4 linked regions of the Homo sapiens genome follow. The protein of the gene in region 1 interacts with the protein of each later gene in a pairwise test. Each region holds a gene or a part of one and is shown in the gene's direction. Other genes may lie near its edges.

Evidence for each region. Proteins that work in one complex are often made in the same cells at the same time.
Region 2: the proteins of SLC10A1 (region 1) and MS4A1 interact in binary tests that used the Homo sapiens proteins (3 or more experiments, as listed by UniProt).
Region 3: the proteins of SLC10A1 (region 1) and ATP13A1 interact in a two-hybrid assay, tested with the Homo sapiens proteins (one large-scale study listed by BioGRID).
Region 4: the proteins of SLC10A1 (region 1) and SLC7A3 interact in binary tests that used the Homo sapiens proteins (3 or more experiments, as listed by UniProt).

What each region holds. Positions count from the first base shown.
Region 1 is NC_000014.9:69,777,515-69,780,660, reverse strand, and holds part of SLC10A1 (hepatic sodium/bile acid cotransporter), read left to right. Parts: intron 1-1,300; coding exon 1,301-1,479; intron 1,480-2,131; coding exon 2,132-2,328; intron 2,329-3,146. UniProt on the Homo sapiens protein: As a major transporter of conjugated bile salts from plasma into the hepatocyte, it plays a key role in the enterohepatic circulation of bile salts necessary for the solubilization and absorption of dietary fat and fat-soluble vitamins.
Region 2 is NC_000011.10:60,465,746-60,468,931, forward strand, and holds part of MS4A1 (B-lymphocyte antigen CD20), read left to right. Parts: intron 1-175; coding exon 176-412; intron 413-1,213; coding exon 1,214-1,315; intron 1,316-2,504; coding exon 2,505-2,723; 3' UTR 2,724-3,186. UniProt on the Homo sapiens protein: B-lymphocyte-specific membrane protein that plays a role in the regulation of cellular calcium influx necessary for the development, differentiation, and activation of B-lymphocytes.
Region 3 is NC_000019.10:19,649,795-19,653,777, reverse strand, and holds part of ATP13A1 (endoplasmic reticulum transmembrane helix translocase), read left to right. Parts: intron 1-1,057; coding exon 1,058-1,183; intron 1,184-1,980; coding exon 1,981-2,089; intron 2,090-3,837; coding exon 3,838-3,983. UniProt on the Homo sapiens protein: Endoplasmic reticulum translocase required to remove mitochondrial transmembrane proteins mistargeted to the endoplasmic reticulum.
Region 4 is NC_000023.11:70,924,697-70,928,197, reverse strand, and holds the end of SLC7A3 (cationic amino acid transporter 3), read left to right. Parts: coding exon 1-53; intron 54-177; coding exon 178-400; intron 401-574; coding exon 575-714; intron 715-813; coding exon 814-916; intron 917-1,156; coding exon 1,157-1,323; intron 1,324-1,504; coding exon 1,505-1,671; intron 1,672-2,019; coding exon 2,020-2,128; intron 2,129-2,254; coding exon 2,255-2,385; 3' UTR 2,386-2,619; downstream 2,620-3,501. UniProt on the Homo sapiens protein: Uniporter that mediates the uptake of cationic L-amino acids such as L-arginine, L-lysine and L-ornithine. The transport is sodium ions- and pH-independent, moderately trans-stimulated and is mediated by passive diffusion.

The sequences.
Region 1 (3,146 bases):
ATCAGTTGCAACAAGTATTAAAAACAGAAACACAAAGCTGTGCAGCTGAAATTTGAGCAATATAAATGTTAAAATGTCGTTAGGACATTATGAATGTACTTAATGCCACTGAACTGTACACTCAAAAGTGATTAAAATGGCAAACTTTGCTATACATATTTTACTTTTTTAAAATGTTACTAGGAAATATAAAATGCAACACATGTGAATGAACCAAAAAATGAACCAACACATGTAACTATTACAAAATAACATGGTAAGTTTGAGAAAAGTTAAGTATTTCTTTACTCAGGAGATAAAAGGGACAGTCTTAAATTTACACATACCTGTTTATCATTTTGGAGGACGCAATTCTCTAAAATGCACACTGGAAAGTACAAAGTGCATGGAGTGCACATGCACTTTGAAAGGTTGCATCCTATGTTGCACAATGAAAAACCCTATAATTTCATTCAGAGTAGACCTGCATAGTTTCCAATGATGTTGTTATCACCCAAGATATTTCTGAAAGTTCTTTTGGGAACTTCCTTCATATTCAATTTGCAGGTCACTCAAGAAAGTAGGTTTGTCCCCTTATTATTAGACATCATTTTGGGTTTAAAACCGTATTTCCGGGCTTGATCATCCACCTTGTTTACCAGCTTTGTTTCAAATGACTCTTGGCAATTTCCAGAATTGATCCTAAAATGGATAAAATCCCTATCTGTAATCAAGGTATTTGAGACAAATATGTATGACAAGTTCTCATGAGTTTCAAAGTATGTGGAACAATGACAGTATTGTAGGAATGTGTATATAAGTTCCAAAAATACTTGACTTTTAAATAATATCCATTTTGCAGGAGTCCTGAATAGCCTCACGTAACACTTCACTGAAAGTCTGCTATCCAGAGATGTGTCAAAAGCAGTAACTGTGCTTGGCTGAGTTTGTAATAATCAAAGTGTTAATCAGCTGTCCCCAAGCTTCCTAGCTACTGATACGAAATCTAAAAAGATGGGCTGGGTGCAGTGGCTCACACCTGTAATCCCAGCACTTTGGAAGGCCAAGGCAGGAGGACCGCTAAGAGTCCAGGAGTAAGACCAGCCTGGGCAACATAGTAAGACCCTGTCTCTAATGTTAATAATTTTAAAAAAATTTAAAGAAAGGAATCCAAAAAGAAGATAAAGGTCTTTCATATTCCTTTCCACTTCCAGTGTTTTATTGCAATGTTTCCCACCTCCAATTTCTACCTGTGCTTCCCCACCTCTGTTCCTCTCTATCCCCAACTCTTCTAATTGCCTTTTCTTGTCTTCATTCCCAGGGAGGGATGATCATCATTCTCTTGTGCAGTGTGGCCGTCACAGTTCTCTCTGCCATCAATGTGGGGAAGAGCATCATGTTTGCCATGACACCACTCTTGATTGCCACCTCCTCCCTGATGCCTTTTATTGGCTTTCTGCTGGGTTATGTTCTCTCTGCTCTCTTCTGCCTCAATGGACGGTAGGTATTTTTTTTTTTTTTAAGAAAGGGTCTCACTCTGTTGCCCAGGCTGGAGGGGAGTAGCACATTCTCAGCTCACTGCAGCCTCAACCTCCAGGGTTTAACTGATCCTCCTGCCTCAGCCCCCCAAGTAACTGGGACTATAGGCACAAGCCACCATGACCAGCTGATTTAACTTTTCTGGAGACAGGGTTTTACCATGTTGCCCAGGCTAGTTTTGAACTAATGAGCTCAAGTGATCCACCTGCCTCAGCCTTCCAAAGTGCTAGGATTACAGGTGTGAGCCACTGCATGCCTGGAGATAGGTATTATTTTAGGTCCCACTGTCCCATGGGCTTCATTCTTGTCCTAGTCTTTCAGGAAACGAATAAGAAGCTAGGAACCTGAAATCTGGGCAAGACACTTTCCTGGCAATATGTTCAGATGCACTAACTGGACAAGAGACTTTAGACTTGAAAAAAATTGAATGAAGGTATTGAACGGGTTAAAAATCCAGACACCAAAGGTATCCAAACACCAGCAGCAATAGCAAAGTACCCCTGTCCAGGGTCTAGATTCCATCTGCTGCGAAACTCTTTGGTAGCAGCACTGGGACAAAGTTGCTCCCTCCAGTTCCCTCTGAGTGTATGTGGGGTTTTCTTCACCGGCACAGGTGCAGACGCACTGTCAGCATGGAGACTGGATGCCAAAATGTCCAACTCTGTTCCACCATCCTCAATGTGGCCTTTCCACCTGAAGTCATTGGACCACTTTTCTTCTTTCCCCTCCTCTACATGATTTTCCAGCTTGGAGAAGGGCTTCTCCTCATTGCCATATTTTGGTGCTATGAGAAATTCAAGACTCCCAAGGGTGAGTACTGAAATTATCCCCACTTCAAGTTCTGCTCCAATATTAGACCTGAGCCTGCCAACAAGCAAGTTTCTAGCAGGGACTTTTTGGATAGGGCTTTAACTCTTATCAAGTCACTAAGAACCAGGTAGCCCCAAGAAGCACCCAAGAAGCATTAAAGATCCAAGACTACTTCCATCAACTGCACTCCATTTCTTCCTTCTAGCTGGGAGAATGAAATTGCAGATGCAGTTTACCTCATAAAACTGAAGCAATTTGGGCTGCTTTGTCTCAGTGGGGAGACATCATAGGACAAAACTGCCTTGGACAACTGAGGTTATTAGTTGTGTGAAAGGCCTCTATTCGCAAGAGTTGGGGAAGTTTCCATTTCTCAGGACTAGGTTCTCATTTCCTGGAACCAGATCAGAGCCACAGCACCACTGGCACCTCCGTATGAGGAAAAACATATGAAAGCAATGCACCCTAATATAACCCAGAATAAAGAAAAAAAAAAAAGATTCCTCAACTCTAGTTACGCAGTAAAGGAAACTTAAGCATACGGTTGTTAAACAGTAACTACCTCCACAATAAACTTAATATGATTTATACTTTACTCTGATCACTATGGGGTTAACATAGCATCTCTTCTCTAAAATGCTCAGAGTATTACCTTTCAAAATAAAATTGAACCTCAAGACAGACCAGAGAACAGAGTGCCTTCCTCAAAGTGCACTTTAACACCAATTTTAAAAAAAAAAAAAAAAAAAAAAAAAAACAGGACATTCAAACCCACTTTATAACACATTTCATTATAACTCTCAACATTAGTATATTCTTCC
Region 2 (3,186 bases), on another chromosome or scaffold:
AGAGACATGATTTTATTTTATAGTGACAAAGAGGCTAAAAACAACTGAGAGAACTTCAGTATATTTAGTTGTAGTTGCTTTGTGAGTCAGGGCAGTTGCATTTGGAATTCCCTCCCAGATTATGTTTTCCAAAGGGAAATCAAACCCAATTAATAAATCTGTGTCTCCATTTCAGGTCAAAGGAAAAATGATAATGAATTCATTGAGCCTCTTTGCTGCCATTTCTGGAATGATTCTTTCAATCATGGACATACTTAATATTAAAATTTCCCATTTTTTAAAAATGGAGAGTCTGAATTTTATTAGAGCTCACACACCATATATTAACATATACAACTGTGAACCAGCTAATCCCTCTGAGAAAAACTCCCCATCTACCCAATACTGTTACAGCATACAATCTCTGTTCTTGGTAAGTGTTCTTGGTAAGTGTGAGATTGGATTTCTCTCCAGGGAGGAAGGATGACTTGTTTATTATGAGCATGAACTCTGGATCCAGACCACCTGAGTTTGCTAGTTACTGTCTGTGTGGCTTTGGGAAAGAATTTTAACCACACTGTGCCTCAATTTCTTCAACTGTAAAATGGGGATGGTAACACTATTTATCTAATAGGGTTGTTCTGAGGAATAAATAAGTTAATATATACAAAGCATTTAGAACAGTGTTTGGTACACAGAAGTGCTATATAAGCATTGGCTTTAACATTAATTATTCTCAACATCATTAATGGCATTAATATTTACCATTATATTAACTAAGATGAGCATAGAAGAAATTCCTAAGATGTTATGAATATCTTTTGCCCAAGGACTTTTAAATGTAGAGTTTGAAAGAGATAAAAAAAAATGCATCTCCCAAGGATGAAGAGGTCTCCTAGGCATGATGCCACACCAACTAAGGCTGAATACAATTTAATTTGAGACTCATTACTTATTCTTTCCTATACAGAATTGATTCTTCAACTGATTATTCATACCTTACTTTCTATCAGCAATACACATTAACCATCTGTTGTGTGCCAAAAGTTGTGTTAAGAGTTAGGGTTATAAAGATGCTGTCTCCTGTACTAGCAGTTCTCACAGCTATTCATTACTTGTCTAAAGAATTGATCTCTTAATCGTTCAATTATAGTCAACAATAACTTACTGAACACCAACAATGTTCTTTGTGCCATTATTACATTTTCACCTTCATTCTTCTGTTGTTTTTCAGGGCATTTTGTCAGTGATGCTGATCTTTGCCTTCTTCCAGGAACTTGTAATAGCTGGCATCGTTGAGAATGAATGGAAAAGAACGTGCTCCAGACCCAAATCTGTAAGTAGTAGCCCCTCTGGCCAAAACCTCCCTCTAGAAAATCCACATCCACAAAGGATCATTTATGGAGAATGTAATCTGATGAGTTGTTGAAACTAGGAGCTTGATTTAAAAAAAAAAATTGGTCTTGGCATATTTCTAGAAAGCAAATAATATGATGTCTTGAAATTTGAAATAAGTCTGTAGTTAGAGCCTACAGTTCTATATTCTGTGCGTCTTTTTTTTTTTTTTTTTTGAGACAGAGTCTCACTTTGTTGCCCAGGCTAGAGTGCAATGGCGCGATCTTGGCCCAGTGCAACCTCTGCCTCCGGGTTCAGGCGATTCTCCTGCCTCACCCTCCCGAGTAGCTGGGATTACAGGCACCCGCCATCATGCCTGGCCAATTTTTGTATTTTTGTAGAGACGGGGGTTCACCATGTTGGCCAGGCCAGTCTTGAACTCCCGACCTCAGGTGATCCTCCCACCTCAGCCTCCGAAAGTGCTGGGATTGCAGGCGTGAGCCACCATGCCCCACCTCTGTGCATCTTCTTATTAACCTTCCCTGCTGCTTGACTTCAGGCTTCCATCCTGATTTCATGATTCCATATACAGTGTGTAAAAGCAAGATGGTTGAAGGTTGAAGGCTAAGTCACTAGTTCTTTGGTTTCATTTTTCAGTATTCCCCTCTTCCCTCCTTTTCACCTAATTCCTCTTCCAAAACAACAGGTTAAAGGGCTCCACAAATGGGAAATAAAAACAGACCAATAATAGATATATTACTAACTGCTTCAGAACCAGACTGTTAGATTTAGAATTTAGAAATCATCGCTAATTACTTCATTTTGCATTTAAAGAAAAATAGTATCAAAGAGAGAAAATTATTCTCCCAGAGTTATATTCACTAAAGGCAAATCAGAACGAAAATCTAAACTCCTCTATTACTGCAATGTTCTTTTCCCAATACCACGTGGTCATTCCAGGCACTGTGGTCAATGTCTGCTGCCCTTGAAGATTTATTCAGACTTGAGTTTTAATAAATGACTTGATAAGGATATAAGCACCTGCAAAAAAATTTTGGCATTTAAAGGCATATAATAAATGACATAAGTAGCATAAAAACCAGGAGGTATTTGATAAATGTTTGTGGAGATTGTTGACAAAGGTGTCAGTGGTAAAAGTAAAGAATGGTTTGTTTAATTTTCTGTTTTAGAACATAGTTCTCCTGTCAGCAGAAGAAAAAAAAGAACAGACTATTGAAATAAAAGAAGAAGTGGTTGGGCTAACTGAAACATCTTCCCAACCAAAGAATGAAGAAGACATTGAAATTATTCCAATCCAAGAAGAGGAAGAAGAAGAAACAGAGACGAACTTTCCAGAACCTCCCCAAGATCAGGAATCCTCACCAATAGAAAATGACAGCTCTCCTTAAGTGATTTCTTCTGTTTTCTGTTTCCTTTTTTAAACATTAGTGTTCATAGCTTCCAAGAGACATGCTGACTTTCATTTCTTGAGGTACTCTGCACATACGCACCACATCTCTATCTGGCCTTTGCATGGAGTGACCATAGCTCCTTCTCTCTTACATTGAATGTAGAGAATGTAGCCATTGTAGCAGCTTGTGTTGTCACGCTTCTTCTTTTGAGCAACTTTCTTACACTGAAGAAAGGCAGAATGAGTGCTTCAGAATGTGATTTCCTACTAACCTGTTCCTTGGATAGGCTTTTTAGTATAGTATTTTTTTTTGTCATTTTCTCCATCAACAACCAGGGAGACTGCACCTGATGGAAAAGATATATGACTGCTTCATGACATTCCTAAACTATCTTTTTTTTATTCCACATCTACGTTTTTGGTGGAGTCCCTTTTGCATCATTGTTTTAAGGATGATAAAA
Region 3 (3,983 bases), on another chromosome or scaffold:
GCCCAGGCTCCCCCTGCCTTCACCATGTGCCTGGCCCGTCAGCTCCTCCCTGAGTCACCTCCTGTGTCCCACAGTGCCAGGTTGAATGGTTGTGATTTTGTCCTCCTTGCCCCGCCTCCAGCTTCTACCTTTGGAGACTCCAAATGGCACTCAGTCTGTCCACTGCTGTGGGGACCCACCCAGTCCTGGCTCACGCAGAGCACACGCAGGGCTTACCTGCCCCAGTCCTGGTGTGTCCCTAGCTCTACTCTTTTGCCCTGGTCTTGGGCAGGGCTAGGTGGCATCCTCAGCCCTCTCACCCATCCATCCTCCACAAAGCCCACCCTCCGCCTCCACCACCGGCACATCTGCCGCTTGGCTTCTTCCTGGGCTCTCGTTCTTTCTGCTTGCACCCTACAGCTGCGGATCCTTCCAGAATTTAGCCTCAGGTTGCAGTACTGTGTGCAGAGCCCAGGCCACAGCTCACAGCCTGCATGCTCTGCCCCGTTCCTGCACCTGGAGCCCCCTTCCCAGTGACACAGGTCCTCATCGCCTTCATAGTGGCCACTTCTGAGGCCTTTCCACCCTCTCTGGATTCCATTCTCACCTCCTCTCTCATGGCACTCAGCACTCCGATTTCTGTGACTTTCTTGATCATGCGTCTCCCCTGGTGCAGTGTGAGCTCCCTAAGGCCAGGGGTCTGTGCCCAGTCTGTGGTATGTGGTGGAGCCCCAGTGAGTAAGAGTTCCTGGCTAAACTCCAACATTATTGGGAGAGTCCCTACTTCATTGACTTGGAAGCTGAGCCACAAGGGACTCTGTGATGTGCCCATGTCCGCAAGCAGGACATAGAGCCACATTCGGGGGACCCAGACCCCCCAGTCACTGCCAGATCCCACCCCTCAAGCGTGCCTGGTACCCTCCTGGCATTTCTCCCCTCCCAACCCTCGCATGTGCCCACTACGGGAACAGGGCCTTCCATTGTCCCCTTGGCTCCCAGCGCATGGTCAGAGCTCAGGAAATGCAGAGTGTGGGCAGAGGGAGGGACAGATGGTGAGGGTGCCCCTGTCTGTCCGCAGGCCCGGGAGGTCAAGCGGGAGGCCCTGGAGTGCAGCCTCAAGTTCGTCGGCTTCATTGTGGTCTCCTGCCCGCTCAAGGCTGACTCCAAGGCCGTGATCCGGGAGATCCAGAATGCGTCCCACCGGGTATGGGACGGTGCTCGGCTCCACCCTCTGCATGGGAAATAGAGGCGAGGAGATGACAATTACAGCTTCGTGGTAGGGGTGGGCACCCAAGTCTCACAGGCTGCATGTTTTAGCTGAGCAAGATCATAGCTCAGGTGCTAACATTGCCACTGGCCCAAGGACACTCTGGGACCCGCCTGTGCTGGCTCCTCTCTCCTCCACAGACCACTCCCTTCACTCCCCGCATCATGGGAAGATGGGGGCACTTCTCTCCACTTCCCCGTTCCACCGCCGTCCTGGAGAGAAGGAAGCTGAGGCTGGGGAGTTGGGTGGGGGGCACTGTCTGCCTGTCCTGGTGGCTTCTGGTGGCTTGTGTTTTCTATTTTGGGACTTAGGGTGTCTTTTAGGGTGTAAGGGGTGAGTGAGCCGTCTCAGAGGATGATGGCTCTGGGTCACATGGGTGATGTGATTAGTCCCCACCAAGCCCAGAGGTCATGGTCCCATCCTCCTCTTTGCTGAAATATTACCCCCATGGGCAGCTACCAAGCCAAAAGGGTCCACCTCAGGGGCAGGTTGTTCATTTGTATTGCAAATCCAAGCTAAGGGTGTCTTCAGAAGGACGCACATACACGTGTCATTTGTGTAAAATGACCTGGGTGGGGGTGGGTTGTGGCCCTTGGAAGCCCATTCAGCATCTCGGTTAGAGGCCCAGGATCTCCCACTGTGGCCTACCTTAGAAGGAGACTTGGCAGCCTTGTCTCTGGCCTAGAGCTTGGCCCCAGGGTGCCATGCTGAGCCTCTGCCCCTCTTTACCCAAGGTGGTCATGATCACGGGAGACAACCCGCTCACTGCATGCCACGTGGCCCAGGAGCTGCACTTCATTGAAAAGGCCCACACGCTGATCCTGCAGCCTCCCTCCGAGAAAGGTGAGGCCCTAGCCTGGCCCACAGTGGGGAAGGGGGACCCTGAGTCCAAGAACAGCTCCCATCGCAACAGCCCACCTGTGTACCAGGCCTCAGCAGCACAGTGTCTTCAAATGCCTGGCACCACTAATCACAGCCCTGGCCCACTGGGCACCTCGGACAGCATGTGAGCGTTCACTGGGTCGCAGGTCCCAGGATGTGCGGCATGTAGGTGTTTATTTACCATAATGAGGCGATAGTCTGACTGCCAGCTCGGGTTTCCTGTGCACTCATGGGCAGATACTGCTCCTACCACGCTTACTCCCCATCCTCAGTGTCATCCTCATTTCACACCCTCTTTGGCCCGGCAAGCTGCCCATGTACCGAGTGCTCCCTTCCCGAGCACAGGGACTGCTGGCATCCTCAGCCACAGTTGATGGCAGTTTGCCCAGTGCTCAGCCTGACCAGACCCCAGGCGGAGCGCTCCGTGCGTGTTACTGCGTTGGTCCCTCCACCCCATCCTGCACCACACGGGGTGGCTTGCCTTCCCCACACCACAGAGGAGGAAGCTGGCTGGGTCAGCTCTCGGGGCCCTGCTTTGTAGAGAAGGGACAGAGGCTCAGAAGTGAACCCACTTGCCCAGGTCACTTCCAATCCATGGCTAAGGATTGGAATCCAGACAGCCTGATTCCAGAGCTCAAGGCTCCAACCTCTCCCCAGTGACCTCTTTGAGCAATGCCCTGGATTCAGATTGATGAAGAGGCAGACATAGAGACCCAGCCCCTCCCAGCTAGAGGTGTGGGGCTTACCAGATACCTGCCCCAGAGCTAGAGGTGAAGCCCCTGTGGGCGCACGCAGTTCAGGACCTGCATGAGTGTTGACAGGGCCCTAAGAAGAACCACATGGAGCAGTGTTGCCACAGGGCTGCTGGCAGCAAACATTCACAGGTCTGGGCCAGAGCAGCTTCCGGAACCTCCAGGCCACCTCTCAGAGGACTCGGTCCCTGCCCTCCCTCTGTTCTATTGGTCGCAGGCCTCCCCCTGTCCCAGCCCCAGCTACCGGGGTCTTCCAGGGCCTGGGGATTGTGGGCAGGTGGCATGGAGCGGATGAGCAGAACTGTTGATTGACAAGCGAAGCTGGTCTAGCAACAGCTGCAGCACAAGCCAGGTGGAAGTGTGCTGCCCTTCAGCTTGAGATGGTCCAGGGTGAGCAGGCAGTGCCAGGAGGGCTGGCGGGCCGCCCTTGGCCATCCTCAGCGCCCAGCATCCAAGCCAGGGCCAGCCAGCAAGAAAGGGGAAGTGGAGCAAGAAGATGTTGAGAACTCAGGGGCCCTGTCAGAGTTGGGAGGGGGCCCAGCCCCGAGAAAACAGGATTTCAGAGAGGCCACGGGCGCAGGGATAAATGAGGTGAGGGCCTGGTGTGGGGTTTCCCAAGGAGAGCGCAATAGCCCCCTTCTGTGTGTTTCAGGTTAGGGGGCCTTGCATGAGGTGGGGGCATGGCTTAGCTGGGGTCAGACTGCCCAGGTTCTAATCTGGCTGTGTCCCGGGCTCTCAGGCAAGTAGCTCAGGCCCCAGGCTCTTGGTTCCACCCTGTGCACCTGAGGGACATTCTTTGTGGAGTCCCCAGAGAAGGGCTGGGGGTCACCTGGGTGGGTAGGGAGGTGCGGGCTCCAGAGAGGAGAGACTGGCTGGTGCTGGGGTCCGAGTGGAGGGAGGGTGCTTCTGAGCCCGGTCAGCCAAGCCCCCAGCCCTAACCCTAGGTGCTGCCCGCAGGCCGGCAGTGCGAGTGGCGCTCCATTGACGGCAGCATCGTGCTGCCCCTGGCCCGGGGCTCCCCAAAGGCACTGGCCCTGGAGTACGCACTGTGCCTCACAGGCGACGGCTTGGCCCACCTGCAGGCCACCGACCCCCAGCAGCTG
Region 4 (3,501 bases), on another chromosome or scaffold:
AGCAGCGACCTGTTTCTATGCATTTGTTGGTTTCGACTGTATTGCTACCACTGGTAACACAGTCATTCCATTCTGTTTGGGGCTTGGGCACAGTGTGTGCCCAGGCTGTATGCAGACTGGGGGTGGTAGAGGAGTGGGCCTGCTTCCCTAATTTAGAACCTTACGCCCTTCCTTCAGGAGAAGAAGCCCAGAATCCCCAGCGTTCCATCCCGATGGGCATTGTGATCTCACTGTCTGTCTGCTTTTTGGCGTATTTTGCTGTCTCTTCTGCACTCACCCTGATGATGCCTTACTACCAGCTTCAGCCTGAGAGCCCTTTGCCTGAGGCATTTCTCTACATTGGATGGGCTCCTGCCCGCTATGTTGTGGCTGTTGGCTCCCTCTGTGCTCTTTCTACCAGGTCAGTATCAAATGTTTGTTTTCTTCTGCTGTCAGAGTCTCAGGTTATAGCATTCAGTACCAGAGAATACCCCTTAAAAGGGCTGTGAGGGGAAAGTGGAGACTCTTTAAACATACAGTCTTGGGAAGAGAGATCCCAGTCAACTCATGCCACCCTGGGCATTCTCCTCTCCAGCCTCCTGGGCTCCATGTTCCCCATGCCTCGGGTGATCTACGCGATGGCAGAGGATGGCCTCCTGTTCCGTGTACTTGCTCGGATCCACACCGGCACACGCACCCCAATCATAGCCACCGTGGTCTCTGGCATTATTGCAGGTAACAGACCCTCTTTCCCCTTCCCTTAGTTGTTTCGCCAACTTCTTTAACTTTGCCACTCCCTTCTCTCATTTCTTGTTTCCTGCCTATTAATTTTAGCATTCATGGCATTCCTCTTCAAACTCACTGATCTTGTGGACCTCATGTCAATTGGGACCCTGCTTGCTTACTCCCTGGTGTCGATTTGTGTTCTCATCCTCAGGTGAGACTCTTCCTCTGCATACTGTGATTTGGATTTTTATTCTTGGATGAGGAATGATGGAGATCTGCTCCTCTTTCCTCCTTCGCCTTCATTATTCCAACTTTCTTTGAGGAATCTGGGTATCTCACCCTGCCAAAAAGAACTTCCCTTAATGGTGATGAGGAAGGTTAAGCTGCCTGGGAGAAGATGATAAAGTGAGTAAAGGTTGTTCTTAATACTGCCATCTTACTTTTGCCTCAGGTATCAACCTGATCAGGAGACAAAGACTGGGGAAGAAGTGGAGTTGCAGGAGGAGGCAATAACTACTGAATCAGAGAAGTTGACCCTATGGGGACTATTTTTCCCACTCAACTCCATCCCCACTCCACTCTCTGGCCAAATTGTCTATGTTTGTTCCTCATTGCTTGGTGAGCAGTGGAATTTTTCTGGGGTGGCTCTGAGATCAGCGTGATTGGGTCGAAGTGTGTGGCATTTGGTGGCTGAGGAAGAACTAGAGAGAGAGCGACTCTCCTTGGAACAGGGTTTCTAATGTCTTAGCATGTTGGTCTTAAGAGTTGGTTTTGATGTCTCTCAACTTGACCTTTGAAGCTGTCCTGCTGACTGCTCTTTGCCTGGTGCTGGCCCAGTGGTCAGTTCCATTGCTTTCTGGAGACCTGCTGTGGACTGCAGTGGTTGTGCTGCTCCTGCTGCTCATTATTGGGATCATTGTGGTCATCTGGAGACAGCCACAGAGTTCCACTCCCCTTCACTTTAAGGTAAATGAACTCTGTCTTTTTTCCTTGCCAGCCCATCTTGGGAGAATAGGCTCCAGATATCTTGAGGTCTAATAAAGTTCATAGATATTCTTTAATTGAACATGAAAGGGAAGATATAGGAGGTACCTAGGCCAAAGACTTCTTCTCTGACCCTCTTTAGTTCCTTTCCAGTTCCATTTACCCAAACTGCATATTCTTGGAGTCTCATGAGGTATGCTAAATGAGCAGCTACTGAAATGCAGAGGACAAGTAAGAGTTGGACTCACCCTTTTCTGGCCTGCATAGGATAGGGATCTCTTTCTAGGTCAACCTGTGGTATGTACAAAGAAGATTTTACTTTGTTTTCAGGTGCCTGCTTTGCCTCTCCTCCCACTAATGAGCATCTTTGTGAATATTTACCTTATGATGCAGATGACAGCTGGTACCTGGGCCCGATTTGGGGTCTGGATGCTGATTGGTAGGTATCCACTTGGGAAGAGTAGGCTTCTTTGGTGTCCTAGCCCAGCTCCTTTCCCTCTTGGTCTCAAGTAGGAAACCTATGAAGCCTTTACACCCCCACCTCACAGCTACCTTTCCCCACTAGGCTTTGCTATCTACTTCGGCTATGGGATCCAGCACAGCCTGGAAGAGATTAAGAGTAACCAACCCTCACGCAAGTCTAGAGCCAAAACTGTAGACCTTGATCCCGGCACTCTCTATGTCCACTCAGTTTGACATCGTCACACCTAAATGCTGTCTGGTCCCCTGCACAATAATGGAGAGTACTCCTGACCCCAGTGACAGCTAGCCCTCCCCTGTGATGGTGGTGGTGGATACTAATACAGTTCTGTACGATGTGAAGGATGTGTCTTTGCTATTTCTTGTCTATTTTAACCCGTCTGCTTCTAAATGATGTCTAGCTGCTTACCAACTTTAAAAAATGATATTAAAAGAAAGTAGAAAAATAAACTGTGTCCTGTTTTTTGCTTGCTAAAGATGTAGAGCCTGACTTTTAAGAGTGAAGAGCCTCAGAGAAGTGTCCTTTGTGTTTTCTTCAGTTACCACAAAAGCATCTGCTGTGCCTGTGGGTGCTTCTTGTTGAATCAGGGTTTGAGGAGGGTGGTGTAAGTAGGTAGCCATCCAGTCCAGTCACACTTAAAGGAATGGTCTTGAGATATGTTTTCCCCTCATTACACTTAAGGTTAGGTTCTGGATAAGTAGACAGCAACACTTGTCTCTGGGATTTGGGGTGGACTCTGATAGCAACACTGACATTGGTTAGGGCCTACACTGAAACTATTGGCTTCTGTTCCACCTCTTCTAGTTGGACCAGTCCCACACTCCTGTAACTGCCTGAGCATCAGAAATTTTGGCTGCGGTGTTTGGCACTGCTGGGAGGAGGGGTGGATAGTCAGGGGGTTTGGTAAGGGACCACATATATTAATATATGGATACTGTTTGCTGCAGAAGTAGTAGGAAAATAGAGGTCAGAGCTCTGCTCAGAACGAGAACTATTCATTCATCCATTTATTCAACAAACATAGGTGAAGCTCCTATAAAACGTTAGGTCCTGTGGTGGGTGCTGGGGATACAAATGTGAATAAAACATAATCCCCACCCTTAAGGAACTCACAATCTTGTGGAGGAGACAAGCAGGTAAATATGACTACAAAACAGTGTGATTTGTACCAGGGCAGTGCAGAGTGCTGTGGAAGCACAAAGAAGGACATGCTTGAACTGAGTCTGCAGTAGATGCTTAAGAAGTGGACTGAGGGAAGGGCTTGGCTGTCAGTGTACAGTGTGCAAGAAACCACGGAAGTATGAAAAAACATTCAAATTGTGTTTGGGGTG